Homo sapiens: one gene and its partners. The protein of the gene in region 1 purifies or fractionates together with the protein of each later gene. This does not show direct contact. Each region holds a gene or a part of one and is shown in the gene's direction. Other genes may lie near its edges.

Region 1 (4,552 bases):
GAATTTGCCACGTGGGTGAGAAATGAGACTGAAGTGATTATCAACTGTGCTGGTTCGCAGTTAGAATTGTGCATGGCAGTAACCTGGGGAAATTAAAAGCAAATCTCTAAGTCTAGGATATCCCCTGAAGATTTTAATATAGTAAATCTAATATTTACTATTAAATATTACTGGGCATGTATGTTTTAAAATATTTCCTTGAAGCTGGGCATGGTGGTGCCTCTAGCCAGAGCAACAGATTAAGACACTGCCTCTAACAGCAACAACACAACAACAACAACAACAATAAAACATTTCTTGGGACACTGATACGCTGCTGGTTAAGAACCACTGAATAGATAAGTGTAATATAAATTCCCATATCTCAAACACACAAAAAATCTCTAGAAGAGCTGGAGATAGGTGCTGCTTCCTTTAAATTTCTCCTTTCCAATAATATTGGCCTGACTTTTACCTGTCTCTACCTCTGTGGTTGGGAAGTGGAAAGGACTATTATTTGCAGTATCTATCAGCATAAGAATAACACCTTTTCTTTGCCACCATCACTTATTCACTGCCATTCATAGGGTCATTAGAAATTTGCTATTGTGGACTCTTTTAATAAGTAGAGACTGACTCTTTCAGGACTCTGAGTCTCTTTGTTATCATTCTGGTGATTAGGTCAATACATCATTATTAAAAGCGGGGTTCTCTCAATTACAATAGCAAAAAATTCTAAACCTTTTTTTAAAGCTGAAGCTCTATTATGGACTGCCTCAGTATGTCAGTTAAGTACATAGAACTGTGGCATAATCAGGATAGCAGTTTTAAACACTGAAAACCATGAAGTTAGTAAGAATACAAAGAATACATATAGGTCATTATTAGAGCTTTAATTGATAAGCCATTGTATTTTTATTTCTGATTTATATTTTACCTAAAATAAAAAAAATTAGGTTACAATATAGAAACTAGAATTATAATTTAATATTATTTTAATAATTTAGTTGCAGCAGTCCTATGAACTAATTATCCATTTGGTGAACAATCTGGGAAAATTAAACATAAATTATAAATGAATGAATGTTGTAAAAGTGCTCAAAGTGGGTATTATGACTCTTAGTAACAATTTTTATTGCATTCTTGGGCCTATTTTGGAAAAAAAATCTGAAACTAAAGAAAGGAAGTATTTTACATGAAAATACTTGCTTTACATACAATCGCTTGGAGACATATCCATAGCAAATATAAAAATACAAGGTATATAGTCCAAATGTGTCCCATACATGTGTTTAGTTTGCGTCTACAAATTGTCTCAACATGGAAGGTTTAGGAGACTCGTGCACAGATCTGGATTCCAAGCTTCTCTTCAAGAATCCAATCTGGTGTCCCTTGAGCCTATCTCAGGTTTTGGATGCTGTGCAGAGGTTGCCCCTTTCTATGAGGCATGTGGTCTCCATTTTGCTACTGTGCCTACCTAGGTACTTCACTTCCTCAGGTCATCTCCCTTGCCTCTGTAGGGATGACTTTACAAGCCCTGTTTTATAATATATTTTAGTAAATATTTCAAGGTTTTCAAGACATTTTATATTTATTTAAATGTAGAGTCTATATTTTATATAAATCCTTTGGTAATCGGGTTGAACTTTTGAATTTAGATGGTGGTGTTTTATAAACTATTTATACATACCATAAATAATCATCTTCCCATTAGAATGCATGTAAGCTTTTTAAGGTGAATCATGGTATAGTTGCATAGGTTATGCATATTGCAGACAACATTATATTTTTCTCTTCAGCATTGCCTCCTAAAAATGCAAGTAATTGGCCGAGCGCAGTGGCTCACGCCTGTAATCCTAGCACTTTGGGAGGCAGAGGCAGGTAGATCACGAGGTCAGAAGATTGAGACCATCCTGGCTAACACGGTGAAACCCCCTCTCTACTACAAATACAAAAAATTAGCTGGGTGTGGTGGCACACGCCTGTAGTCCCAGCTACTCGGGAGGCTGAGGCAGGAGAATTTCTCGTGCTTGAATCCGGGAGGCGGAGGTTGCAGTGAGCCGAGATGGCACCACTGCACTCCAGCCTGGGTGACAGAGCGAGACTCCATCTCAAATAAATAAATAAATAAATAAATAAATGATGCAAATAATTTAGTGGTTTTCATTATGCTATAAATAATTCATATAGGTCATTATTAGAGCTTTAATTGATAAGCCATTGTATTTTTATTTCTGATTGATATTTTACCTAAAATAAAATAAGTTAGGTAAGAATGAATTGGAAACTAGAATACAAATAGATTTTTAAAGGAGTTATGTACCAGGGTCCTAAGATTATAATTACATAAATATTTGCATCAGGGTCCTAAGATTGTAATTGAGAATAACATTTCATACAGAGCTTTCTGACAGCTAAGATAAAAATATTACTAGAGAAAACCCATGGACTATTTAATAATAAGCAGTGAAAGTTCACTCGAAGCCTATCTCTATTAATTCAGAGCCCGGCTCTCCGAATTAAAAAGAGATAGGCTTCAAATGAACTGTCAATCGTGTCAGAATCTCAGATGACAATGTCAGGTGCTCAGGTGCTCAGGAGCTCCTGACATTGTCACCTGAGATTCTCACACCATCGATAGAAGAGAATGAGGCAAGTGTGTATCACCCAGAGGAAACCTCTACCTTTACTGGTAAGCTCTCACAACTGTATCCCTGAAACTCTCATTTCTCAAATGTTAACATTCTCCAAAATAAGTATTTACAAATAGGGATTAGGTGAAGTTCAAAAGATTTCTCAAATACTAGACACATAATGCACAGTTTTGTAACATTTTTCAAACATGGGTGATCATGGAGTCTCTCTTTTGGGGTATAATGTTCAAATTCTGGTAAAGTAAATATCCTTTGGAATATATTAATAGTTTAAGAAACACCGCTCTATAGATAATAATTTAGATCATTAATAAAAATACCTGAAACATTTATTACTGTGTCTTAGAGTTTGAGGACATAGAGAAAAAAATACAGCTGCTGCCCTCAAGAAGCTCTTGGTTCAGGTGGGAAACAATTAAATCCTTGAAACATGCCATGCTAAATGCTGGGACAGAAGCAAAGATTCTTGGAACTGGGAAATGTTTGAAGTGAGTTTTGGAGATGACCAGAGTTCTTGTGGTGAGGCAGAGGAGGTTGTTTCCAGGGGAAGGAGCAGAACATAGAAAAGCACCGAGGAGGGAAAAGAAAGGGACTACCTCTTACGACCTTTCAATTGTATATATTGAAGCTCACAGGATCTTACATAAGGTTTTCATTTCAGTTGATAAATATGTAATTTTGTGATTATAAATTGTTGCTGTTATTTTACAGAATGAATATCAGCCACTGTTACTTGCTGTGAGTCGAAGAAAAGTGAAAATGGTGGAATTTTTATTAAAGAAAAAAGCAAATGTAAATGCCATTGATTATCTTGGCAGGTACAGACCTTAGTTCTTATTGTGTTGTTTTTAAACCTGAGTGTCATTTTAGAGTGGTAGCAGTCACTCAAGTCACAAATATTACATTAGTAAGAAGACTAACTTTTAATTACTGGGATATAGTGAGAAATATCAACACAGATCATCACTTAGGTAGAAAAACAATTATTTGGACTGAGTAACATAAAGAACAGTGTATAGCAGGATTCATCTCTCTCTATAGACATTATACACATAAAAGGCTTCTATATATAGAAAGCTCTGTATATTGATAGATGTTTGTTATTTGTAAGATGATGTGGTGTTATTTACAATGTAATAATGTGATGCTTTTGATTGTATGATCTTACATTAGCTAAAGGGGTTTCATGTTAGTTTTTCATTTCTACTGTGTTTTGATGTTGTTTTTAATTGATATGGGGAGGGGGAAAAAAGATAGCTTTAGATGGATAAAACTTTACTTCAATGAAGACAAGCTTTAGGTTCACACAGGACTGGGTTTAATCCCTAGCTTTCCCACTTGCTAGATGTGTGACCTTGGTAACATTACTTACCAAGTATGTTTTCTTCTGTGAAAAGGAGGGTAATAATATATCCTTCAAGGGTGGTTGTGTGTAAGTAACATTATATATATATAATGTTAGAATGTCCAGCTAACAGAGCAAGGTGCTGATGTTTTGGAAACAATGGCTGAGCATATAAGTATGTGCATATAATATATATACACACATATGTATGTAAGAATATAATGTAACTAACATCATATATAATATATAATATATACAATATATATTTATAGATAATATATAATATACTATATATTATATATTTTATAGATTATATATAATATACTATATATATTTTATATATATGTGATATTACTTATACACAACCACCCTTGAAGGATATATTATTATCCTCCATATATATATATATATAGTGTTTAATTAAATGCCTAGCACATGCTTATGAGCATCATTAACTGAAGCTATGACTACTACTATTAGCATTCCTATTAATATTATTGTTTTAAGCCTGCAGATAGCTCTTATCTGACCCTTCAGCTGATTTTGCATTATAATGTATAGTATCAGACTAGGG
Region 2 (4,552 bases), about 91 Mb from region 1:
GAACCAACCCAAATGCCCATCAATGATAGATTGGATAAAGAAAAGGTGGTACATATATCCCATATCCCATGGAATACTCTGCAGCCATAAAAAGGAATGAGATAATGTCCTTTGCAGGGACATGGATGAAGCTGGAAGCTATCATCCTTAGCAAACTAACACAGGAACAGAAAACCAAACACCACATGTTCTCACCCAGAAGTGGGAGTTGAACAATGAGAACACATGGACACAGAGAGGGGAACAACACACACCAGGACCCATTAGGGGGTGGGAGGCGAGGGGAGGGAACTTAGAGGATGGGTCAATAGGTGCAGCAAACCACCATGGCACACGTATACTGTATAACTAACCTGCACATTCTGCACATGTATCCCATTTTGTTTTGGAAGAAATTTTTAAAAAGAAGAAGAAAAACGTCTTTTTATTGTAAAATAAACAGAAACCTATTACCCAAAGTTTTGAAATGAGAAACAGAAAACAAATTATTCATAATCCCACAATCTATCAAAACCACTTCTTTAATATTACAAATAATCTTAATATCTAACACAACCAATTAGTTTAAGTCAATGAACATGCATACATTGGTATCTGTCATTTTCATTTATTTGGTAGTTTTTATTATAGCTCGTTGTTTACTTTCTTGTCTTTTTTCTTTTCTTTTGTAAAACAGTCTTCCTTTAAAATATTATGTACATATTTTGCATTTTTTAGTTAACTAGGTTAAATACTATATTTTTGTCTAAAACCCTCCTTAAATAATGAACTATAAAAATTCTATTAAATGATATAAGATGATTAACAAAGCATGTTTTCATTTTATGTTGATCACAGTAGATAATAAATTATTAGAATTTGTAGTAGAGTTAAAGCATAGCATTTTCAATATATATTACTACTAGTCTTCTTGTTATCTGGAGGTCTTACTAAATATGACATAATTGTGACAACATTAAATCTTATTGATGCCTTTACCAAAATTCTTTATAATGTTGATTAAGTAAATAAATCTTTAGTCTTTACTATGTGCAAGACATTATGAATTCAGTGGAGATATGAATGGAGAAGAAATGAGCTTGTGGATGTAAGATATATTTGTGGCAGTTTCAAATCAATAGATCTGAGATTGTAAGTTGTTTACAAGCCCAAATTCAGATGACATATATATTTTGATCACTGGCACTGTGTTTTACCAAAATACAAACTGTTTACCATCGCTTAAAATTGGGAGCTCTCATATAAAATTTCAGACTTCTGGCCTCATCTTTCATACATAAGATCTGACAGTTTCAGATTGGAATTGCTCACTTCCACCAGGCAACAATTAACTGGGACAGAGTAGCAGGTGTTCCATTTAGAGGGCATACCTCAAGTTTTCCAGAGACACCACCTGGCCAGCCTCATTCAAGTTACCTGCTTAGGGTTTAACAAACCCTCCTCACAAGGAAAAGGAAATAAATAGCAAAGCAAGGAGAGAAACTACATTTGGCACTCTGCTTTCATTTCATAGGCACTAAATATTTGAGAAAGGGAGAAAAACAAGTAGGAAAAAACAATACAATAAAAGAGATGAGAAGTTTGACATAAAGAACTCTTGCTTCCAACTTTCCCACTTCAACAGCTATTCAGTAATACCCACCCCCAAGTCCGCTTGTTTTTTCAATGTTGTGCCTGGGTAGGTGTTGAGTTATTACATTAGCCTACTACCTTGCTCATTTAATACATCTCTACTCCCAACTGTTGCCCTTTTGAAGTACCTCTTGTGAATGTCTTGGAGTAAGTGCTTATATGAATGTTGTTTTCTCGATTCAAAAACAGTTTGACATATTATTAAAATGCAAATCTTTGTTTGATTTTTACACAGGCTGAAGAGATCACTTTAACAATTGGCCAAGCATTTGACCTGGCATACAGGAAATTTCTAGAATCAGGAGGAAAAGATGTTGAAACAAGAAAACAGATCGCAGGGTTACAAAAAAGAGTGAGTAAACTAAGCTTGTTGTTTTACATTTGTGTGATGTAAGTACAGGGAAACTTGCATATCGTCAAACAAATTTAGAAGCCCTGCCATTAAATTTCACCCACACTGACTGATTGGAACTGCTTTCACCGTGTTCCCATAATTTTTCGTTCCTGATCCCCTGCACAGTTTTTTTTTTTTAACTATTTTATATTGAATTCCCACAAGAACTTAGTGTTCTCATGTGACTTTGCTTCACTTCCTGATGCTTCTCATGGGGATCAGAGCAGCAGAAGCAGCAGATGCTGGGTAAGTGGTTTTCCATGCAGATCAGATTCCTTGGTAATTAAATTATGCCTTTCTCCACTCTTCAAAATCATCATAAGCAAGTTTCACTGTCTTGTGGTTATATTCCAAGATTATGGGTATAGATTGCACAGTCCAACAAGAAAACACAATGTTGAGATATTAGGAACATAAAATTTGCACACACATAAAAATATATTATAAATTTAAGTCTTTCAATGATCTAGAATCCTCCAGCATTTCCCAAGCTTTATCAAACAATTTTCTCCCCACGCACAACAAAGTACATTAAAGTTTTACGTAATATAAATTCCTACTCATAACTGTAGCCAATATTTTCCAAGAAAAAAAAAACAGAAAGTTATTCAATAATGATTTTCTTTTTAGATCCAAGACTTAGAAACAGAAAATATGGAACTTAAAAATAAAGTACAAGATTTGGAAAACCAACTGAGAATAACTCAAGTATCAGCACCTCCAGTGAGTATATTGAATATCCTTAGAAACAAGATTTTATGGTGATAAAACATCTGTGTATCACTAGTTCTGCAATATTTCATATAATACTTGGGGATCAGTAATTTCAAAGTAAACATGGATAGAGATGAAGGCTGCTAAGCAGTTTAATTTAAAACTTAAAATTACCTAGTCAGTTCAAATCAGAGTTGTTTTCTATGTTGCTGTTTTCCTCTGGGTTTTCTAACATAATTCAACCCTCAGGTTAGTCTTAAGTTTTATTACATAATATAATTTTTCTCTTTGTGGCATATTCTTCTTTTGTTTCTATTAATTACTATTTGCTGGGTTAGATTTAATGACCTATGCCAGTCTCCCCTTGAAGTGCTCAACTTCATTGTAGGAATTCAACTGTGAGCAAGACTGAACCTGGTTTCTTATATTACATGGTAAGGGTTCCCGCTGGGAGTGAGGCAATTGTATTTCAAACATTAAAATGAGTGGTATTCTCTGCAGACAAAACTCAAGTCTTTGTAGTTAAAATATTTATGTCTGACTTGTCACAGTTTTGAAATCCTTTTCCCAATACCATGTATGATATCATTATTACATGATTTTGGCAAAGGGAATTTATTGGAGGGAGGTGGAATTTAAAACAATATTTTTTCTAGGCAAAATATATTCAGGAAAAGATATTTTTCTGTTTGAATCATCTGTACTACTGATATTCTTTATTAAAGTGTATTTATTATTCTTCATTTAAAAATATTTAATATCTATGCCAAGCACAGTGGCTTATATCTGTAATCCCAACATTTTGGGAGGCCAAGGCAGGCAGATCATTTGAGCCCAGGGGTTCAAGACCAGTCTGGCAACATGGTGAAACCTTGTCTCTACAAAAAATACAAAAAATTATCCAGGCATATTGGCACACACCTGTAGTCTCAGCCACTGAGGAGGCTGAGGTAAGAGGATGGCATGAGCCCAGAGGTCATGGCTGCAGTGATCCATGATAGCACCACTCCACTGCAGCCTGGGTGACAGAGAAAGACTCTGTTTCAAAAAAAATTAATATCTAACTTATAACATAAACATGAACTGAAAAAAGAAATTTGTTGCAAAATTTTTTATGGAAGCTTATTGTGCTTCAATACGTAGGATAAACTCAATGAAAATGTTCATTTCTTAATATCTAATACTAGAATCATTCACAAGCTCATCACTATGAAAAAGGATGTTTCTATAGAAGTTTCATTTAGGGTTTCAAACTTGGCACACTCTGGAAATGGGTCAAAAAATGATTTTTCCTGTAAACTCACATTTTTCCACCTCCCATTTGAAAGAGTGAGTATTTCCATTGCTTGGCAGATGGTTTGTGCCAGTAGGGCTCCTATGGCCTTGATGAGAGAGGTTGGGACTGAGGTACCAATGTATCTATGCTGGAGCATCCTCTTCAGGTTCTGGTTTTATTCTGATATTCCTTCTTATTTTTTCTTGTCACTGTCTGCTGCTCACCAGGATTATGATTTTTTTCTTGCCTCTCTCGCTGCTAGGGACAGAACATCAGTTCAAACTCATTATTCAACCTTCCATCCCAAGATGGAACACACATCCTCTTGGGTTTTGTTGAAATTCATATTGTAAGCCATGTTGCGAAATATGCTAGGAGAATAAGAATAAATGTACTTCATTTATGTGAAGGGAAGTAACTTTTTCAAGGAGTTTTGATAACGTAGTTGTTTCTGGAATTCATCACATATGAAGAGTAGCTTTGCTTTCATTTTTGTGTTGACAAAGGAGTAAAATAAGCTCCATCACCTTCTTGGA
Region 3 (4,552 bases), on another chromosome or scaffold:
CCTAGCTGCTGGGAGTTCCTTAAGGTCCCAGCTGCAGGGTCAGCTAGCCATGAGCAGCTGGCATTTGCAAGTGGCTCCTGCGTTGGCCTGGTAGCCTGAGTGGGTGAGCCTTGGCCTGCTCCCACAGCCAATTGCTCCACTTGTTGGAAACCAGGCGTACAGGCTGAGCCCCTCAAAACACACAGTTCCTCACACAGGGCACCACATTTGTAACTGACTCAAGTCCGGCTCTTCACAACACAGAGGCCAAAAACATGAGAAGTGAGGTGTGGTGGAAGGAAAACAGTTTTATTAATCAAATGCTAGCAGCTGGGGACTGGCCAGGCTCATGCCCTCAAAAGACCATTTCAACTTTTTGGGCTGAGTGAAGGGGTTTAAAAAGGAAAAGGTGTGGAAGAGATGCAGGAGTGGTGCAGGTCTGAATGTCTTGTTGTGATAGTTATATTGAGTAATTGCCCATCTGGAGGTATGGTTTGTGTCATCTTGACTTCAGCTGGGTAATGCTAGGCTAACTGTTCGAAACTCCCCCCATGCAAGAGGAGTCTGCAACTCCATCTCTGCTTGGTTTGTTTCAAAACTGGCCCCTGAAATTTCTAAGCAAGTACGTAATTAGATAAGTGAACACTGTTCATGGACATGCCTGGTGGGAAAGGGAGAAACTAAGGGTTTCAAAGTATGCTTCCAGGCTGAAAGCAAAAAGGAAAAAAAAATGTTCTAAATTGCATTTTGAGGGTTGGATACTCGGTCTATGAAAAGTGATGAATTAGCTTCTCTATTAGTAAGACTTTATAACATCTATATGTTTTTAAATTTTTACTTATTTATTGGTAAAGAAGCATTTAAATGTGGCAAGGTCTCTGACAAAGTTCTTAGTAACAATGTAGGAAGATGACTATAGTGCAACTTTGTGAAATTGACTTGCTAAAAGCAAATTGTTAAGCAGCTGGCTTAAAGCTTTTAGTTTCTCTCCCTCCTTGATTGTTTTTAAGAACTAAATACTCATATAGTTTGTAATATGTTCTGTTGTTTAGGCTTAGTTTATTATGATCAAATATTCTTGCTTTTTAATGACAACAAATACAATTTCAGAAACTAAAGAGTATCAAGAACCAGAGGTTCCAGAGAGTAACCAGAAACAGTGGCAATCTAAGAGAAAGTCAGAGTGTATTAACCAGAATCCTGCTGCATCTTCAAATCACTGGCAGATTCCGGAGTTAGCCCGAAAAGTTAATACAGAGGTAACTTTTCCACTAAAGTACAATATTGCTTTTTTGTTCATAATGCATTTCCGAAGGTTGATGATCATATTAAATGTTTTCTTTTATTAAATGTGTATGATATTTAGTAGAATAGTTTATTTAAAGGTTTTTAAAATCATTTATAAAGTGGTGATCAGTAGCAGTCATACGTTCAGTAAGTCAGGCTAAATTATTTTCTATCTTCGATAGTGTTTCTAGATTGCCGATAGACTGGTGCTATGGGCCAAATCTAGTTCTTAGCCTGATTGTGTAAATAAAGACTTACTGGAACACTGACACACTCATTCATTTAATGTCTATGGCTGCTTTTGCATTATAAGAGCAGAGTTGATTAGTTGTATTAGAGACCACTTGGCCTGCAAAGTTTAAAATGTTTACTATCTGGTCCTTTACCGAAAACTGTATGCTGATCTCTGAACTAGCGCAGTGCTGTCCCAAGCACTTAACAGTTTCCTGTGGTCATACTCATTGATAAAAATAGAAAAATATAGCCTAGACAACGTACATGAATTTGTAACATACTGAGTCATCATTCCTGGTGGCTTTTCGGAAGGAATGATCAAGTAGGATACTAAAGAGCTATAGCTGCAGTTCATGGCCATAGTTTCCTTACCATTTCTTTTCAGTGACTTGTAGTAAATATAGTAAAGGCTTTATTAATTCAGTGGTTCTCAAACATTTGGCCTTTTATACTCTTAATTATCAGTGCCCCTAAAGAGCTTTTGTTTATGTTGATTATATCTATCTCTATTTACTATATTAGGAAGTAAAGCCAAGAAACTTTAAAAATGTTTATTAATTTATTAAAAATAACTGAGGGCTGGGCACGATGGCTCACGCCTGTAATCCCAGCACTTTGGGAGGCCAAGGCGGGCAGATCACGAGGTCAGGAGATCGAGACCATCTTGGCTAACATGGTGAAACCCTGTCTCTACTAAAAATACAAAAAATTAGCCGGGTGTGGTGGTGGGCGCCTGTAGTCCCAGCTACTTGGGAGGCTGAGGCAGGAGAATGGTGTGAACCCAGGAGGCGGAGCTTGCAGTGAGCAGATATCATGCCACTGCACTCCGGCCTGGGTGACAGAGCGAGACTCTGTCTCAAAAAAAATAAAATGAAATAAAATAACTGATAAACTCATGTGAATATAAATGTACTTTTATGAAAAATATGTATTTTCTGAAACAAAATAACTACAGTGGGAAGAGTAGCACTGTGTTAGAGTTTTTACAAATCTAATGATTGGCTTAACAGAAGACTAGATTCTTATGTCTGCTTTTGCATTCAATGTATTTCATTATTACATGTCATACAGTCTCTGGAAAACTCCTTATATACTCATGAGAAAATAAAAGTGAGAAAGGTAAATATTGTCATAGTAAGATCTCTTAAGTAGTAGATGTAGATAACAAATGCTAGATGATAAGGATCCTGATAGGTTGAGTCATAGATTGTATCAAACCAGCATCTCCTCTTTTTTTTCTATTTGAAAATTGTACACTAATAGGATTGTAAGGGAACTGAAAACCATATGGATCATTAAAGAAATGCAAAGCAAAACCATAATTAGATACTACTTCACACCCACTAGGACGGCTGTAATTCAAGAGACAATAACAAGTGTTGGCAAGGATGTGGAGAATTTTAGAACCTTCATATGCTGCTAGTGGGAATGTAAAATGGTGCAGTCATTTTGGATAAGAGTCTGGGAGTTCTTCAAAAGGTTAAACGTAGCTTTATATGATCCAATAATTCCACTCCTAGGTTTGTAGTTAAGAGAATTGAAAACATACATCCACACAAATATTTGTACATAAATATTCATAGCAGCATTTTCATAATTGCCAAAAAGTGGAAATAACAAAATATCCAACCGATGAATGGATAAAGAAAATGTGGTACATCCATACAATGGAATGTTAATCAACAATAAACAGTAATGAAGTACTAGTACATGTTACAACATAAGTGAACATTTACAACGTGCTAAGTGAAAGAAGCTCACCACAAAAGCCCATATATTTTATGATCCCATTTAGATAAAATGGTCAGAATAGGCAAATCCATAGAGGTGGAAAGTAGATTAGTGGTTGCCAGGGGCTGGGAGCAGTGGGGAGTGGGGAGTGATTGCTAATGGGTGTGAGTTTTCTTTTTAGAAGACGAAAATATTCTAAAATTGGATTGTGGTGATGGTTGCACAGCTGTGAACCACTGAGCAACTAAAAACCATTGAATAGTACACGTAGAAAGAAAAAGTATAGAATCTAGGCAGTTTCTTGTGGATACTGCTTGTCCAGCAGTCCCTTCAAGGGAGGATTGTTTTTGTCTCACATCTCACTTACCATATGGCTGTGTGCTCTCTGTTCTGTGTCCAGACCATTTCTTCCTCTTTCTTGCAAAAGGCCTGCTCTTTTGATACTTCTGACTTACTCTCATCTCTGAATGTCCTGGTAACTCCCCATCATTCCTTGAAGATACAAGGCTCTGGATCAACCAGATCCCAACAACTGTCATTGTTTTTGTTGGCTTCTACACCCCTGTGTATTACCAGTCCTACAGCTGGCCTTCATTTTTCTAACTTCTTCGTGTCTCATGACCATTTCCTTAATTTTACTTTAGCCACCTACTCCTTATATCCTCAATTCTGACCTCCAAAATCGCAGATGCTAACATTCCACTCTATGATCGTGATCTTTTTCATTTTCCTTGTTCATTAATCTTATTACAGCAGTTCCTCAGTAACATCTTTACCACTAATCTTAAAATATGTGCGTGCTTGTACGTGAGCACAGACACACGAAGTCTTAAATGAGAGGGAAAATTTATCCTGGAAAAAAAATTTCTTGGCCAAGACTGAAATGTAGAAAGTAGGATAGATTTAGTCATTGTAATTCTCAAGTGCGTAATGAGGACCAGTGTGTTGAAATTATAATAGATAAACCAATATAATCCAAATTATCTGCAAATATTTTCTAATAACTAAAGCTGTCCTGAAATTGAAGTGAACCTCTGTAGACTAGTGAGTGCTTAGTTACTAAAAGTATTCAAGCAAAACTTGGTTCTCTATTTAATTGAGATGTGCTACAGCAGGGGTTAGCAAACTTTATGTAAAGGGTTAGCAGGCTTTCCAGGCTAGATGGGCTCTGTTGTAGCTTTTCACCTCTGCCATTAGAGCATGAAAATAAAAGCCATAGACAATATGTAAACAAATTGGCATAGCCATATTCTAATAAAACTTTGTTTACAAAAATAGGCAGGCAGCAGGCCACATTCAGCCTGAGCCTGTAGGCTGTAAT
Region 4 (4,552 bases), on another chromosome or scaffold:
TTGGAGATGTCAGTATGTCTTATTACTGATGATGTTGACTTTAATTGTGTGGTTAAGGTAGTTTATGCTGCATTTGGCCAGTGTAAAATTACTGTAATTAACAAATATCTTAAGCTTCACAAATCTTGTTTCTTCTCAAACTTTCACCCATTGATTTTTAGTATCTGCCAGATACTAAATCTTGTCTACAACAGTTTTTTCTGTGGAATTCTGCTGTAAGAAAGGATGTTTCATTCTCTCTCATCTATTTAATCAGTTATTTATTCATATCAGTATGGATTCATGGGTATTTATTCTATAGGTTACAATCCAATATTGTCTTTATTTATTGCTCAGATTGTTCCATATTTGGCATTAGGAGCTGCTTATGTTGGTCCCTGCATTGTTTCAGCAAGCCCATGTTTCTTGAGTACTTCCCAAGTGTCAGTAACCCACTTTTGCAAAGGCATAACCTTATCAGAGGTATGAGGTAGCATGAGTTCATGTTGAAACTGAACTATCTCAAGCTAGTAATTTGTGCAGTGTTTGAAAGATGTGGCTGTGTTTCCCTAGAAATTTGAGAAAGCCCTTGTTGCCCCTGTGAGTTCACTCCAATGTCCTCTTACCTTTTGCAGTTTGAGATATGCCAGCTTACATTTGTTTATGGAGTATCACTTAACACAAGCTTGTCCAACCTGTGGCCCAGGACAGCTTTGAATGCGGCCCATCACAAATTCGTAAACTTTCTTAAAATATTATGAGTTTTTTTTTTTTTTTTGCAATTTTTTTAAGCTCATCAGCTATCGTTAGTGTTAGTGTATTTTATATGTGGCCCAATACAATTCCTCTTACAATGCAGCCCAGGGAAGCCAAAAGATTGGACAACCCTGAACACTTCTAATTTATAAGTGAGTTTGAGCAAGTGTTTGTGTTATTAAGACAAATGTTATTAAATGCATCGCTCATAGGGAATTTCTTAAAATTCCCAGTTCTATTAATGTACTTCCAAAATAATCTTATGTTTTACATTAACATCCAGTATTTTATGTTACATGATTTTTAGTACTTACTTTTAAAACTTTCTCCTTTTTAAAGCTTTTACTGAAATTTCAAAATTTCAAAATCCTCACTGAATTTCTCCTCACTGAAAAGAAATTCTGGAAACTATACAGTGATATTGCATGGAGGCACATTTTAGAAATGGTATTGTTATAAATATATAAAGATGTATTTATAATGATTTATTTATAAATAAAGGATTTTTGAGATTAATATTTTTGTCCTTGTTTCAATATGTAGAATTGGTGGATCCAAATATTTTTATCCAGCCCATCACAGAAGAACGTGCTTCTAGGACTTTGTATCGCATTGAACTTCTAAGGAAAGTACGGGAACAGGCCCTTCGACATCCACAGTTGTTTGAACGCTTGAAGCTTTGCCATCCAAATCCAGATTTACCAGTCTGGTGGGAATGTGGCCCTCATGATAGGGATTTGCTTATTGGTGCTGCCAAACACGGGGTGAGCCGAACAGACTATCACATTCTTCGTGATCCTGAACTCTCATTTATGGCAGCTCAGAGGAACTACAGTCAAAGTAAGATGGCTCATTCAAGGACTTCTACCCCACTTCTACAGCAATATCAAGTAGCACTTTCTGCTTCTCCTCTTACCTCTCTACCTAGGCTCCTAGATGCTAAAGGTATTATTCTAGAGGAGATGAAAGTTAAAAGTGAAAACCTTAAAGAGGAGCCTCAGTCTTCTGAAGAAGAATCTATGTCTTCTGTGGAAACCAGGACACTAATAAAATCTGAGCCTGTAAGTCCAAAGAATGGTGTTTTACCACAGGCTACTGGAGACCAGAAATCTGGTGGAAAATGTGAAACAGACAGACGCATGGTTGCAGCCAGAACAGAACCCCTAACTCCAAACCCAGCTTCTAAGAAACCAAGAGTCCACAAAAGGGGATCAGAATCTAGTTCTGATTCTGACTCAGATTCTGAGAGATCATCTTGTTCTTCCAGATCATCTTCTTCCTCATCATCCTCTTCTTGCTCCCACTCTCGATCAGGCTCTAGTTCTTCTTCATCTTCATCTTGTTCTTCAGCATCTTCTTCATCCTCTTCCTCCACCTCTTCCTCCTCCTCCTCCTCTTCATCTTCATCAGAAGAAAGTGACAGTGATGAAGAAGAAGCCCAAAAACGAGGTACTATGCATAAAATAATTCTACTTTTTTAACATAACTTTTCTTTTCTTTTCTTTTCTTTTCTTTTCTTTTTTTTTTTTTTTTTTGAGATGGAGTTTTGCTCTTGTTGCCCAGGCTGGAGTGCAATGGCGCAATCTCAGCTCACTTCAACCTCCACCTCCTGGGTTCAAGCGACTCTCCTGCCTCAGCCTCCCAAGTAGCTGGGATTACAGGCATGTGCCACCATGCCTGGCTAATTTTGTATTTTTAGTAGAGACGGGGTTTCTCCATGTTGGTCAGGCTGGTCTCAAACTCCCGACCTCAGGTGATCTACCCGCCTCAGCCTCCCAAAGTGCTGAGATTACAGGCATGAGCCACCAGGCCTGGCCTAATATAACTTTTCAAGTGAAAATGAAAAGAACTCGTTTCAGGTAACTTAAGGATGTTTAAAATTGTTTGCTTACAGTGTTTTTTTGAAACGGAGTCTCGCTCTGTCGCCCAGGCTGGAGTGCAATGGCACGATCTCAGCTCACTGCAACCTCTGTCTCCCAGGTTCAAGCGATTCTCCTGCCTCAGCCTCCTGAGTAGCTAGGATTACAGGCACCCACCACCATGTCCAGCTAATTTTTGTATTTTTGTAGAGACAGGGTTTCACCATGTTGGCCAGGCTGGTCTCGAACTCCTGACCTTAGGTGATCCGCCCGCCTTAGCCTCCCAAAGTGCTGGGATTACAGGCATAAGCCACCACACCTGGCCTGTTTGCTTAAGTTTTATATATACAAATGTTCTTAGGAAAGCACTATTGGGAAGAAAACTAGTTACTGATACAAATTCCCTGTTTAATATTCAAGGCATTACACAGTAGATTAATCAGGCAATTGAATTAGAAATTTTACACAGTAGTTTATTTGTGATTGTCTTAAATTGAATATTTTTCCCAGGAACAAGTTGATTAGTGAACAAGTAAAAGATAATATTATATAGCAGTCACCAAGAGTCTTAAGCTAATGAGAATATCATAAGCCATTTATTTGTCAGCCATGACAAATGCTTGTCAGCAGAACAGTGTTTGGTGGTCCCCTTCTGCAGGAACCCTTGCAGCAGTCCACCAGTTCAGGGGCAAGAAAATGAGTCCAATTAAACATGAGCAGGAGCTGGGGTCTCTTGTAACAACTCCATAGGCATAACTTTCGGGGTTGCCGCAAGAAACATGCCCAATTCTAAGAGTTACAAGAGTCACCTAATCAAGAGAATTATGGTATCCTCATCAGGTATTTATAGTTCTGCCAATCCAGATGAAGTCTACCAATCAGGAATCATTTTAAAAATAGTGAGTAATGAAGTCAGGCGTAGTGCACACCTGTAATCTGAGCTACTTGAGAAGCTGAGGCAGGAGTATTGCTTGAGCCCAGGAGTTCTGTCCAGGCTGTGCAACACAGCAAGACCCTGTCTCTTAATAATAATGATAGGTGCTTTTTTTATATTCTAGGTGATTTTTTCTCTTTTTTTATCATTTGTTTTTACTTCTAACATTTTCATTTTCAGGTGTTTCTGAATAATTATGTAAAATCCTTATATATAAAACTATTTTATGTAGTCTTTTTAAAAAATGATTATAATTGTTTTTAGCAGAAAGTACTACTCACATGAAAGCCTATGATGAAGAAAGCGTCGCGTCACTGAGCACTACCCAGGATGAGACTCAGGATAGTTTTCAGATGAACAATGGGACACCAGAGTCTGCTTATATCTTACAAGGTGGATATATGCTGGCAGCCTCGTATTGGCCAAAGGTAAAGAAATAATTTCTTATTGGGATAGGTCATTTTTTAGTATTTTTCTATATTGCTTCAATGGTAGATATTCTTACTATGTGGAAACATAGGTCAGCGTAAAATGTAGGATGACATTTTGGTGTTAGCTCCAAAAGTATAAATTACTGCTATCAAGTAAATAGTTCTGCTTTAATGTGTATGCTTCTCAACATAACTTTAGAATGTTTAGAATAAAAGATAATGAATCCTTACTTTCAAGTTAATCCTAAAGTGCTTCTTTATGAAACAGGTGCTTTTGACTGAGTCTCCTTGAAGAAGTTTACTGTAGCCAGTTGTGACCTAGAATGAAAAGTTCATTTAAATACATGTACATTCAGTGGAAGAAGAAAGATTGAATTAATACAGATTTTCTTCCTTTTTTTTTGAGTCTCACTCTGTCGCCCAAGCTGGCTTACAGTGGCACAATCTCAGCTCACTGCAACCTCCGCCTCCCAGGTTCATGCAGTTCACCTGCCTCAGCCTCCCAAGTAGCTGAGATTACAGGCACCCACCACCCTACCTGGCTAATTTTTGTATTTTTAGCTGAGACAGGGTTTCACCATGTCGGCCAGGAT
Region 5 (4,552 bases), on another chromosome or scaffold:
GGCTTTTAAGAAGGATAACAACGTTTCAGCAACCACAATTTGAGAGAAGCAAAGGAGGAACTGCTAAAGAGGCATGGTGTAGCTTCTCCGCCCTTGCCAGAGAAAACATCTAAAAGCAGAAGCAGCCCGTTCTGTGTGCTGTGCAGCTCAGTGACTTTGGTTATGAGGTGCTTCTAGCTCCTTAGCATTCCCAAGCTCTCTTGAATTAAGAGAAAACAAAAATTACACTGCAGAGTAATTTCCTGCACCTTATTCTAATCTCCGAATTGTTAATTTCTATTTATATCATTCTTAGTTCCAATACCTACTACTTCAAGTTGTAACAACTGGATGTTATAGAACAGGTGAGTTGAGATGCTGTCATTTTTCCTAAAATTTTGGAAGAGACCTTTAGTATATCTTTTTTAATCTCTCTTCTTGTTTGACAGAGTAATCTTCATGTTTGGTTGATACGGTGGAGATTACTTATTTTAAGTAACATAATTGTTACTTAAAGATTTTGTAATAGTGGAACGTGCGCAATCCCTAGTATTATAACAGTGCTTATTTTATGGACTGGTGTGTACATAGTACTGTAGGAGGTGCTATGGAGATTTTTAAAAATAGCTTAAGAAAATATTTGTCTTTTAAGATATTTAAAATAAAGCTAGAGAGGAAAGTATGCCAATGCTAGCAAACACAAACTGCTGATTATAAATAAGTTTCATTTATGTGTAATGGAAAAAATTAGAGCAGTGATGCTTATGTAATGAGGTTTGTCAAGGACAGCTTCTTGAAGAAGGTGAATCTTCAGTGTGTCTTAAAGCATAGAATCTGCGTTGATGACGAGAACACCGTCCACCCAGGTGTATGGCACAGTTTGCAGAGAAGTTATGTGCCATACGTATTTTAGTCTGCATAGAATAAGCTAGTATATTTTTTGGCATAGAAATTGAACCTTCAGTAGGTGAAGTGCAGGTCTTAGGAGAAGATTTAAGAAGCATGTTGGAGAAAATTATTTGAGGAGTTTTGTTGCATTTGTAGGTTGTGCCTGTGTATTTTAAGATACTGGTCATGTTAGAGATCCAGAAGAAATTTACCTTTCAGGGAATATTGCTAGTGAGTATCTCAATATTTGCATTTATTTTAAATGTTTTTCATAGGATACCTTTGTGGCAGTATTTTCATTTCTGTCTGGAAGGTTAGTGCACATTTCTGAACAGGCTGCTTTGATCCTGAATCGTAAGAAAGATGTCCTGGCGTCTTCTCACTTTGTTGACCTGCTTGCACCTCAAGACATGAGGGTATTCTACGCGCACACTGCCAGAGCTCAGCTTCCTTTCTGGAACAACTGGACCCAAAGAGGTAACAGGACCAATGTTCAGATGTCTATCTTTCCTCATCAAGATCAGTTTCATTCTTACAGGAATAGTACAGAAATTAACATATTATTTAGAACATGCACACTATCTGGTTTTTCTTATTCCTGTTATAGAAAGTCACGTGATGAAAACAGCATTTTAAAAGCTTCTGATAACATACTCAATACGTTTGTTTCCATTTTGTCACATCTGTTTCACAGATGATATGTCATAAATATTATTTCATTACCAGCGTATTGTATAGTGGTTTAGTTGCTATGAAGGCTCTGTTTCCTTTAAGTTAAAATTAAATGTTTTTCCTCCTTCATGATTTCCTTGTATGAGAAATTTTACTTTGGAGATAAAATTTGGATCATTAGGCTGGGCAAGGTGGCTCACGCCTGTAATCCCAGCACTTTGGGAGGTTGAGGCAGGTGGATCACCTGAGGTCAGGAGTTCCAGACCAGCCTGGCCAACATGGTAAAACCCCATCTGTACTAAAAGTACAAAAATTAGTCAGGCATGGTAGTGCATGCCTGTAATCCCAGCTACTCAGGAGGTTGAGGCACGAGAAGCACTTGAACCCGGGAGACAGAGGTTGCAGTGAGCCAAGATCACACCATTGCACTCCAGCCTGGGCGACAAGCGTGAAACTGTTTCTGGGGAAAAAAAAAAAAAAAAATTCAGATCATTAGCTCTCTTACAGTTTTTCTTGCCCCTGAAACTTATGAGTCTTATTACTTTGTTTTCCTTCTGGAATGCTTTTCTTTCATAATTCAAAGATGCCTATTGCAGTTTTCTTTGTGACATTCAGTCCTGTGTGATCTTAATTTATTTCTTTTTAGTCATCCTTCATTATTTTATATTCTTTGTGAAGTGTCTCTTAAAGAGCTTTAAAATATATATATATATATATCAGCGTTCTCTTTGATTCCAAGCCCTTCTCTCTAATTAAAAAAAAAATTCATTGTAGTAAAAAACACATACAGTTTACTATCTGATATAGTTTGGCTGTGTCCCCACCCAAATCTCATGTTGAATTGTAACTCCCACAATTCCCATGTGTCGTGGGAGGAACCCAGTGGGAGATAATTGCATCATGAGGGCGTCTTTCCCATGCTGTTCTCGTGATAGTGGATAAGTCTCATGAGATCTGATTGCTTTAAAAATGGGAGTTTCTCTGCACAAGCTCTCTCTCTTTGCCTGCTGCCGTCCATGTAAGATGTAACTTGCCCCTCCTTGCCTTCTGCCGTGATTGTGAGGCTTCCTCAGCCACGTGGAACTGTAAGTCCGTTAAACCTCTTTCTTTTGTAAATTGCCCAATCTTGGGTCTGTCTTTATCAGCAGCATGCAAACGGACCTAATACACCATCTTAATCATTTTTAGGCATTCACTCCATTGCTGTGAAGGATGTTTACATTGTTGTGAAACAGATCTCCATAACTTTTTCATCTTTATATCTGAAATTCTATCTACTATTTCTAATTTTTTACCCAGTAGTTAATTTAATGAAGGGTAGCTTTGCGTGTTTCTTCTTCCAATTATAGATTGCCCCATCTTTTAAAAATATTTTTACATAAGCTCTAGAAAACATGCATGTCATCCCTGCTTGCTTCTAGCTCATCTCTTTTCCCATCTTTCAAAAATACTGATTTTATTTCTCATCCCCTTTCCTAAATACACATTTTCAACCTTTGTCTGTATTTGTTTCTCTGCTTTTGTTAGCTGTTCATTCCGTAAACATTTATTTAATAATCACGTGGGTCAAGAACTAGTCCGGATACAGATACAGCTGTGAACAGGACATACACAATATTGTCTGCCAGGTCTTTCCCATTTTTTCCCCAGGTATTTTTCCTTCAGCACTGCCTGTGGCTTTTCAGCCTTTTCATTTTTGCTGATTACTGATTACTGCGATATTTCCCTTCTGTATTAGTCCATTCTTACGCTGCTATAAAGAACTATCTGAGACTGGGTAATTAATAAAGGAAAGAAGTTTAATTGACTCACAGTTCCACATGACTGGGGAGGCCTCAGGAAACTTACAATCATGGCAGAAGGGGAAGCAAACATGTCTTTCTACACATGATGGCAGGAAGGAGAAGAATGGGAGCCGAGTGAAGGAGGAAGCCCTTTATAAAGCCATCAGATCTCTTGAGAACTTACTATCATGAGAACAGCATGGGGGAAACTGCCCCCATGATTCAATTACCTCCCTCCGGGTTCCTCCCACCACACATGGGGATTATGGGAACTATAATTCAAGATGAGATTTGGGTGGGGATACAGCCAAACCATATCATTCTGCTCTTAAGCCCTCCCAAATCTCACGTCCTCACATTTCAAAATGCAATCATGCTTTTCCAACAGTCCCCCAAAGTCTTAGCTCATTCCAGCATTAGACCAAAAGTCCAAGTCCAAAGTCTCATATGTGACAAAGCAAGTCCCTTTCACCTATGAGCCTGTAAAATCCAAAGCAAGTTAGTTATCTCCTAGGTACAATAGACGTACAAGCATTGGGTAAATACACCCATTTCAAATGGGAGAAATTGGCCAAAACAAAGGGGCTACAGGCCCCTTGCAAGTCTGAAATCCACTGAAGCAATAATTAAATATTAAAGCTCCAAAATAATCTCCTTTGACTCCATGTCTCACATCCAGGTCATGCTGGTGCAAGAGGTGGGCTCCTACAGCCTTGGGCAGCTCTGCCCTTGTGGCTTTGCAGGGTACAGCCTCCCTTATGGCTGGTTTCATGGGCTGGCATTGAGTGTCTGTGGCTTTTCTGGGCTCACAGTGCAAGCTTTTGGTGGATCTACCATTCTTAGGTCTGGAGGATGGTGGCCCTCTTCTCACAGCTCCACTAGGCAGTGCCCCAGTGAAGACTGTGTGGGCTCCGAACCCAAATTTCCCTTACACATCTCTCTTAGCAGAGGTTCTCTATGAGGGCTCCGCCCCTGTAGCAAACTTCTGCCTGGACATCCAGGCATTTCCGTACATCCTCTGAAATCTAGGCAGAGGTTTCCAAACCTCAGTTCTTGTCTTCTGCACACCTGCAGGACCAACACCATATGGAAGCTGCCAAGGAATAGGGCTTGCACCCTCTGAAGCTATGGCCTGAGCTGTACCTTGGTCCCTTTTAGCCATGGCTGGAGGTGAAGCAGCTGGAATGGAGGGCATCATGTCCCAAGGCTGCACAGAGCAGTGGGGGCCT
Region 6 (5,108 bases), on another chromosome or scaffold:
GTACTCACACACGTTTTTCAAAGTTAAGTCTTATTATACCATATCAATGTATAGCTTGTAGTATACCTGTATCTCTGAGTAAAGTATTAAAAACAAGTCATATGACTGTTTATTAATGCTGCCTCTTTTTGTATTGATTCCACCCATCCCTTCTACTCCTTTCCTCTTCTGTAAAGCAGTAGCTCATCAGATGGCATTTCAGAACCCTGAGAATATGAAAGACATCATGCACTAAGGTTTTCCTATCACATCTCAATGCCATTAGGTGAATAACACCGGCATGCATCTTCACTACTAAATGTCATACAAACAAATTTCAGTTGTTTCACATGCAACCTGTGTGGCTGCTGCAGTTTGTATCAACTATGTAACCACAGGGTGGGCAAAATAGCATTCAAAATGAGCTATAGTGCAAGATACCATCCATACGTAGAGTTAAGCCCTTTCATGCTTAGCAGTCACAATCAGGATATCTTTGGCCCACAGAAACCTATCCTGACTGGAATTTTCCTCTCCTGTGTGTCTCCTGGATATAGTAAGTTCCTAATAAACATCTCCTCTGATTGCTAGCCTTGACAAATTTCCAGGAGAACCAGGGCAAGGAGAAGACAGTGAGGCAGTGCCCGCTGCTCTTCAGATCACCAACAGAATAGAGTCAGAATATGATATTATTGAAACCTTCCAAGTTTGAATTAAGATAAAAACAACTTTTTCAAAATACCAAAAACCTTTTATTTAAGAAAGTGAAATCGCTCGATGTGCCCTCCCACTCTGGTTAGATGCTCAACAGACCACAGCAGACAATGCACCTCAACCAGGGCTAAGTGTGCAAGAAAACTGAAGTACACAAAAAGCAAATTATAGACTCAGGTACTGTCAGGCACAAAAGAAGAACCAACCCTTTCTAGGAGTCTTGTCTTTGCTTCCTTTATTCTTTCCTCGATTCTTGTAATTGAATGTTACAAAGTATATCAAGAGGAATAAACGTATGGGGCCCCTCTCTTCCAAACAAGAAAAGGTTAAGCTTTTAATTACAGGCCCTCAAACTATCATTTTGTGCAATTAGCAATTAACTATAATCGTTGATGAGCAAATGCAAAGCTGCGCTAGCAATTTCCCTTCTCCTCATCCCAGGCTGGGTTATTTCAGTCTTGTTCTATTACAGAGGACCAGCCACAACCGCGCGCACTCTCTTTCAAACATACACACTCTCTCACTTAAAGACACATTTAGTTTTCGGCAAAACGGCATCTCAGCGTGCGATTGAGACCGGCATCCCAAACCCCACTTTTGAGCAGCCCAAACGTTTGGAGCCCCTCCGCTTCATCACTTTCTGAGTGGATAGAGGAGGCCCGAAGAAGATGCTACCTACCAGCCTCTCTCAGGGGCGCAGGAGAGGGTGGTAGAGAGATGCTTGTTGCCCCTGGAAACTGCAAGTACCCCCCAGGTGCACGCCCCGTCAGTGGGGAGGCGGTGGCAACAGCAACGATAGTTGCATCAGCGCTAACTGCTGCTGCTGCTGCGTGTTCTGCCGGAGGCTGCCGGGAGGGTACAGTAATGACTGTAGGGAGCGCACAGCCGCTGCGGCGGCAGGTTCCCTGGATCAGGAAATTAGGACAGGCACCCGGGATTGGAGGCGAGGGCGGCGCGCGAGCCAACCAGCGGTCGCCCCGGGCCCCCGTGAGCCCCAGGCGAACGCGCGGAGCAGCCGGGCCCCTAGAGCGGTCCGGGTGGCGGCGGCGGCAGCCACGACCACGACCGCGGTCACTCACGCACGCTCACACTCGCACGCTCCCCGCGCGGGCACCCGGCTGCCCGGCGCGTGCAAGAGGAGCGCGTCGAGGGAAAGGAGGGCCGAAGCCGCCGCGCTCCCGCCCGCCCGCCGCGCCTCCCGTTGACCACGCCCCCTCCGGCCCCCTCCCCGCTGCTCACCCCGCTCTCCGGCCGCCGCCGGTGCGGGTGCTCCGCTACCGGCTCCTCTCCGTTCTGTGCTCTCTTCTGCTCTCGGCTCCCCACCCCCTCTCCCTTCCCTCCTCTCCCCTTGCCTCCCCTCCTCTGCAGCGCCTGCATTATTTTCTGCCCGCAGGCTCGGCTTGCACTGCTGCTGCAGCCCGGGGAGGTGGCTGGGTGGGTGGGGAGGAGACTGTGCAAGTTGTAGGGGAGGGGGTGCCCTCTTCTTCCCCGCTCCCTTCCCCCGCCAACTCCTTCCCCTCCTTCTCCCCCTTTCCCCTCCCCGCCCCCACCTTCTTCCTCCTTTCGGAAGGACTGGTAACTTGTCGTGCGGAGCGAACGGCGGCGGCGGCGGCGGCGGCGGCACCATCCAGGCGGGCACCATGGGCACGTCCGCGCTCTGGGCGCTCTGGCTGCTGCTCGCGCTGTGCTGGGCGCCCCGGGAGAGCGGCGCCACCGGAACCGGTGAGTGAGGACGCGCCCCTCCGCCGGCGGGCGGGACCCAGCCGGGGCACCGGGAGACCCCGAGGCGTAGGTCTCCGTTTGCCCACCCGCCTCCTAGGAGGCGCCTCTCGGTTCTCCTCGCCTTCCCTCCCTCCCCTCCGTGGTGGCGCCTCTGAGCTGTCAGCGCCGAGGCTAAAGGGAGCCGGGCTTGGGGAACAGCGGGGTTCGGGGTGCCCCGACGCCTCGCCTGAACTAGTCTTCTGCCCCTCACTCCGCCTCCCCCAGAGCCGCTGCTTCGCCTCGTTTCTCGCCCTCTTGACGGGCGCCGAGGTGCGTGGGCTTCTGAGCATTGAACAATGGTTCTGCCTCCTCTGCCAGGCGCAGTGTTGGGAAGGAGGCAGAGGGCCAAGACGTGTGCGGCAGCCTCGGGCGCACCCTCGAACCCCGGGGAGTGCGGGAGCGGACGGGGGGAGAAGGTGAGCGCCTCCGGGGACGCGGAGCGCCAGGGGCCGGCCGGGCTTCAGAGTCTTCCGGCGGCCGCGAGCTGGCGCACGTTCGGTGGGCGGCGGCCGGGAGGCTCCGCGGAGCCGAGGGCACCCGGACTGCGACTCCCCCGGCGCGGGGCCGCCTCTCCGGCGTGCGGGGTAGGGGAGCGGCGGGGCTTTACGCAGGACTCTGCTCTGGGCGCTTCTCCTCTCCCTTTTCCCCGCCTCGGGCGGCGTTTGGAAACCGCTCGGGTCTCCCGTGTAGCTGAACGCGGAGGGGGAGTGGAGGGGAGACTTAATCAGGTTAGTTTGCTGACCCTCCTTCCCGGTGACGTTTCCTCGAGAGGAATTGAGTCCTAGGCTAGTGACTGTAATTAGCCTTCATTCTACACAATAGCTCAAAGGAGCAGCGCGAGAGCGAGCGTGTGGCCCTGTCTTGTTGGGAAGGGCGGCGGTGACTACTGTCGGGTCCCCAGACTCTGCCGCGGGGGCCTGGGGGCCCCGCCTGGTCGTCAGCCACGTTCCCACTTGGGGCCTCGTAACTTTCCTGGACAGGCGACAGGAAGCCTTTCTGAGAGGACTCAGTCGGAATCCTAGCGCGTCCCCGAAGTGATCTTCAGATGTGACGCCGAGGGGCTTGCTTGCCAGCTGCAGGGAATTGGGACTGAAAGCCGCCCAGGCCCTTAACACCCGTTCCAGAGTCCCTGGCTCCCGTCGCCGGGTGGCTTCAGGGGCCCTGCCGGCCTGCAGTCACGTGCTCCTGAAGTGAGAGCGAACTTTAAAGCATGTGGTCAAGGAGCCTGTCGGGCAGCGCCTGGGGTTTTTACGTCTCCGAATGCCCCTGCCCTTTGGTTGCCACTGTCCGGAGCGTGTGAACTGGGACTGGCCTTTCCGCCCTCTGCGATTGGTTAGCGGTGCGATCACGTTTAGGTTGGTCACATGGTTCCGCGGACTCTTAAGTGGGCAGCATGGGCAGTGTTATTTTCAATGGAAAGTAGGAGACTCCACAGGCTCTTACGGGCTGTTCTCTCAAATGCCTTCCCCTGCCTGGACTCTTTGAAGAGGACGAATGTGTAGTGAACATGGAATCTGATGTGTAACAAGCCTGAGAGCCTAGAAAAGCTCTGCTTACAAGAGTTTCCAAACGCTAGCATTAATCATTAATAGATGAGTAATACTAACTTATTAAACGATTTCTCAGTATAGTGCCATGACTTGCATTATGCCTTTTGTAACATTTCAAAACGCTAAGGTATACCAGAAGGAGGGACAATTATCCAGGAAGGTGAGAGAAAAGTTTCGTTTTTGCTGCATGTCCCTTCCACTAGAGGTTAACTTTACCTTATAGAATGCTAGGAATGCACCTAAACTACTGACATGAGTTAGTCAAAGCCAGATGTTCACCTTGTATTGGGCAGGTGAGGATCCTTTTCACTTTGTCACATGTGAAATATTTGACATGCCATGAACAATGGAAAAACAAATTCTTCAAAGGAGAGGAAGCAGATTCTTCCAGAACTGGAGGAAATTTGGGCTGAGGCAGTTATTGACCCTAAACCAATCCCAACCGGCATCTGTCTTAAGTTCAAAGTCTCAGGGCATGTGGGCTGACTTTCTACCCTGGAGCTTCTACACATACCCCTTCTGTCCACTGGCACATGGTGCTGTTCCACAATACTCCTGGACAAGACAGGTGAACACTGAGACTCTGGCAAGGAACTTAAGGCTAACAAGAAGTTGGTATACCTGATTGCACAATTCCTGGGGGTTCTGGGACATTTTCCTTCAGCCTAAGTAGTCAAGATTAAGATCTGTGGTATGATATATTCTTTAAGGCCAGAGTCTAAAAGAACCAAGGTTTTTTGAGAGCTATTCATATATGGCTAGCAACTAGCCTAAGAATAGAAAGAAAATTCCCTCATTGTGAGAAGTGGGTTGGTGGTACTGGTGGTAGTAATAGACCTGGAGGTAGGAAACTGGTTGGCATGGAAAGTAAACTTGGCTCATCCAGATAGCACCAATGAAGGTATGACGATGATAGTACCCCTTATCAAAGACTGATCACTCATGTGAGCAGGGACTGCGTAAAGGAAGGTCACCAGCCAAGCCCTCCTTGGCAGTAACAGCTTCATGAAATCCAGTGTAGCTTTGTTCCCTGGATCACCCTCTTGCCCACTTTATGTGGCATTTACCTATAGTGCCTGTCCTGTGTCATTTTGATTGTTTGCT
Region 7 (3,082 bases), on another chromosome or scaffold:
TTTTTTTTTAAATAGGTCTCCATCATCACCAGTTCCAGTAGTGAAAAACAGAACCCAACAAACTCAAAATACATTACATTTACCACTAAAAAACAGTAGCTATGAGAGAGAGAATTTGATCTCAGGAAGTAATCAAACAGAATTATCATCTGGGATTTCTGAATCATCCCATTTTATTCCGTATGTTCGAACAAATGAGATCTATTACCTTGATCCCGATGCACCATTGTCTGGGCCTTCAACCCAGGACCCTCAGTACCAAAATTCACAAGGTAAGTAAATATTAAGCATTCTAACTGTAAAAATTGAAGACCCATGTAAACCCCGTCAACAACTTTAAATTCCAAATTAGTAATTCCTGCACTTAGTTCTATAAAGTTTCTTGAATATGTCTTAAATTTTTCTTAGTACTTTCCTAGGATACATACTTATTATAATGACTCCTGACAATATTATATAGCACAGGGCTATGTCATTTTACTAATGTAATTGACTGACTTGTTACTTTCATCTGGCTTTAGACTGTGGCCAAAAACGACAGCTATTTGATTCTGACTGTGTCAGGGATCCACTTCTTAATCCTAACATGGTGAAAAATAGGGATCGACAGCAAGCAATCCTTAAGGGACTTTCAGAACTGAGACAGGTATGAGCTTTTTCAAGTGTAGATATGTCTGTTCTTTATGTGGCGTGGGCGGTTGGGGGAACCTGTTGAACGGTTTGTTTTAAGTTACTTCGGTGCATCCCAGGATTTAACAAAAATATTTCAGTTCCTGTATGTTTGTTAGACACAAATAAAATGGGACTTTCCTAAGACTTGCTTTTACACTGCCGTCTTTGAGTAGTTCTTTCCAGTACGAAATCATCAGACAGTTCTAAAATTAAGACAAGTTTATTGAGTAAAAAAATGCATACATTGGAACGGCAAAACATCAATAAGGCCCTAAAACAAAAAATACAGTTATGCTTTAACAAATTCTTAGCAATGTGGCCCACGCTTTTTAAAAAATTGACGTGTTGGCAGTGTTTGTTAGAACATTGACGTACATCCCAAATAGTAATAAATTCAGTATGAAATTATACGCATAACCTTACTCACCATACTACTTTTTCTCCCAAACTATTGTGACTTCTTTTTGCTCTCTGATTAAAACAAACAGGTAACATCCTTACACCTTTGCTCCATCCCTTGGGCTTTAAAAAGAATGGCTGTAGTTAGTTTTGATTCACTATATACTCTCTGTACTTGAGGAAGAGTAAGCTGTGTTTAAAAGTGCCCTTTTCCATGTCGTCATGTACCAATACCCTCTGCATTTCAAAATGTTGACTCAGATGTTTTTCCCTCTACAGAACTAGAAAATTGTCCCCCCACTTTGGTCTATTTACTCATTTGAAGACAAACAGGGTTACTAAGAGTTTTACATAAGTTATTTCTTTAGAGTGACGAAGTGTTAGTTTACTTCTTGCTTAGTGGAGACAAAAATTGTGAGATAAAGAGGAAGGAATAGGATGTACACATTTACCCATCAATATAGCACCCAGTGTTATTTCAGCAGGACCCTTCTGTTAGCATCTAAGGTAAGGTTAGGACAGTCAAGATAAAATACTGGATGTTGGCCAGGAGCAGTGGCTCAAGCCTGTAATCCCAGCACTTTGGGAGGCTGAGGCAGGCAGATCATGAGGTCAGGAGATCAAGACCATCCTGGCTAACACAGTGAAACCCTGTCTCTACTAAAAATACAAAAAGTTAGTTAGTTAGTTAGCCAGGCGTGGTGGTGGGTGCCTGTAGTCCCAGCCATTCGGGAGGTTGAGGCAGGAGAATGGTGTGAACCTGGGAGGCAGAGCTTGCAGTGAGATTGCACCACTGTACTCCAGCTTGGGCGACAGAGCGAGACTCCATCTCCAAAAAAAAACAAAACAACAACAACAAAAAAAAAACACTGTATGTTAAGGGAGACTCCTTCAGTATCTAAGAGCACTTGGGGGTGGACTGGGGGAGAAGGGATGACTTCATTTACCCCCATAGTTATGGAGTCTTGAGTTCTAAGAAAATTTTCATCCCTATTGATTTTTATGCTAAAAACAGAATCTTACAAATGTGATAGCTATATATCCAAATGAGGTGGTCTAGTACAAGCATTTCTGAAAAAATTTTTGAATGACAAAATTTTATCCTAAGCGATATGTTTTCCAAGTGAATATAATTCTAGTTTAACACAACATTGCAAGTCAGGTGTGCACATTTTACTAACAAACATATATCAATGTGATTTCAGGGCCTTCTCCAGAAGCAAAAGGAGTTGGAAAGTAGTCTCCTGCCTTTAGCTGAAAATCAAGAAGAGAGTTTTGGTTCTTCATTTTAAATGTAGAAAATCAAATCCTTCACATTTGATTTGTGTCTTCCAAATTATAAAATGTGCTCACTGGCTCAACTGTATTTTTCAAATAGCCTAGATTTACTTATTTTTTTAAATGCTCATTAAAAACTTGTATACTATGTAGTAAAATGCTGTACTTGTTCTATACAATAAAACAGATACTTCTTTTGTAAAAGCTTAGTAGTAAAAAAAAAAAAAAAAAAACCGGTTCTTCTGCTCTGTCACCACCTGGGTATTGAAGCCCTATAAAAACACTTTCTACTTACCTTAATATAGTCTGGCGTTGCTGGGACCTCACAGTGTTCTTTCACACTTTTTATGTAACTTAGGAACTGAAATACCACTCATGCATTTGTTCTAAAGTGCCAAAGTTCTGTCTAACTTATTAACACGTCTAGACCCATAACTCCATAACTTTTACTGAAATAACACAAATTCAGTTTAGGCTCCTTCTCTAAATCCTGACATTTATTTGCACTATGACATTTATTTGTAGAAATTGCAATTTTCAAAAACATTTTTAAAAGTTAGCATTAGTAACAAGTTAGTAATTAGTATTAGAGGCAGTAGTTAGGAATAGATACGGGTTTGAAAGCTATCTCCACTGTATCTGTCTAGTATAGCATTAATGTGTTCAACAAATGGTAATTACTACTAAGACCACCTCAAAAATATATTCCCATTATACTTCCATTTTGCTAAAA

Evidence for each region.
Region 2: the proteins of ANKRD36B (region 1) and GULP1 purify together in Homo sapiens (affinity purification with mass spectrometry; one large-scale study listed by BioGRID and IntAct). This does not show direct contact.
Region 3: the proteins of ANKRD36B (region 1) and TTK purify together in Homo sapiens (affinity purification with mass spectrometry; one large-scale study listed by BioGRID and IntAct). This does not show direct contact.
Region 4: the proteins of ANKRD36B (region 1) and CHD9 purify together in Homo sapiens (affinity purification with mass spectrometry; one large-scale study listed by BioGRID and IntAct). This does not show direct contact.
Region 5: the proteins of ANKRD36B (region 1) and PER3 purify together in Homo sapiens (co-immunoprecipitation; one large-scale study listed by IntAct). This does not show direct contact.
Region 6: the proteins of ANKRD36B (region 1) and VLDLR purify together in Homo sapiens (affinity purification with mass spectrometry; one large-scale study listed by BioGRID and IntAct). This does not show direct contact.
Region 7: the proteins of ANKRD36B (region 1) and CCDC66 purify together in Homo sapiens (affinity purification with mass spectrometry; one large-scale study listed by BioGRID and IntAct). This does not show direct contact.

The regions. Positions count from the first base shown.
Region 1 is NC_000002.12:97,579,361-97,583,912, reverse strand, and holds part of ANKRD36B (ankyrin repeat domain-containing protein 36B), read left to right. Parts: intron 1-3,344; coding exon 3,345-3,451; intron 3,452-4,552.
Region 2 is NC_000002.12:188,567,372-188,571,923, forward strand, and holds part of GULP1 (PTB domain-containing engulfment adapter protein 1), read left to right. Parts: intron 1-1,867; coding exon 1,868-1,984; intron 1,985-2,248; coding exon of another isoform or gene 2,249-2,272; intron 2,273-2,656; coding exon 2,657-2,749; intron 2,750-4,552. UniProt on the Homo sapiens protein: May function as an adapter protein. Required for efficient phagocytosis of apoptotic cells. Modulates cellular glycosphingolipid and cholesterol transport. May play a role in the internalization and endosomal trafficking of various LRP1 ligands, such as PSAP.
Region 3 is NC_000006.12:80,021,235-80,025,786, forward strand, and holds part of TTK (dual specificity protein kinase TTK), read left to right. Parts: intron 1-1,089; coding exon 1,090-1,238; intron 1,239-4,552.
Region 4 is NC_000016.10:53,302,442-53,306,993, forward strand, and holds part of CHD9 (chromodomain-helicase-DNA-binding protein 9), read left to right. Parts: intron 1-1,278; coding exon 1,279-2,184; intron 2,185-3,792; coding exon of another isoform or gene 3,793-3,795; coding exon 3,796-3,956; intron 3,957-4,552. UniProt on the Homo sapiens protein: Probable ATP-dependent chromatin-remodeling factor. Acts as a transcriptional coactivator for PPARA and possibly other nuclear receptors. Has DNA-dependent ATPase activity and binds to A/T-rich DNA.
Region 5 is NC_000001.11:7,786,903-7,791,454, forward strand, and holds part of PER3 (period circadian protein homolog 3), read left to right. Parts: intron 1-295; exon of another isoform or gene 296-344; intron 345-1,142; coding exon 1,143-1,344; intron 1,345-4,552. UniProt on the Homo sapiens protein: Originally described as a core component of the circadian clock.
Region 6 is NC_000009.12:2,619,857-2,624,964, forward strand, and holds the start of VLDLR (very low-density lipoprotein receptor isoform a precursor), read left to right. Parts: upstream 1-1,930; 5' UTR 1,931-2,333; coding exon 2,334-2,415; exon of another isoform or gene 2,416-2,517; intron 2,518-5,108. UniProt on the Homo sapiens protein: Multifunctional cell surface receptor that binds VLDL and transports it into cells by endocytosis and therefore plays an important role in energy metabolism.
Region 7 is NC_000003.12:56,619,256-56,622,337, forward strand, and holds the end of CCDC66 (coiled-coil domain-containing protein 66), read left to right. Parts: intron 1-15; coding exon 16-272; intron 273-521; coding exon 522-646; intron 647-876; exon of another isoform or gene 877-2,276; coding exon 2,277-2,363; 3' UTR 2,364-2,582; downstream 2,583-3,082. UniProt on the Homo sapiens protein: Microtubule-binding protein required for ciliogenesis. May function in ciliogenesis by mediating the transport of proteins like BBS4 to the cilium, but also through the organization of the centriolar satellites.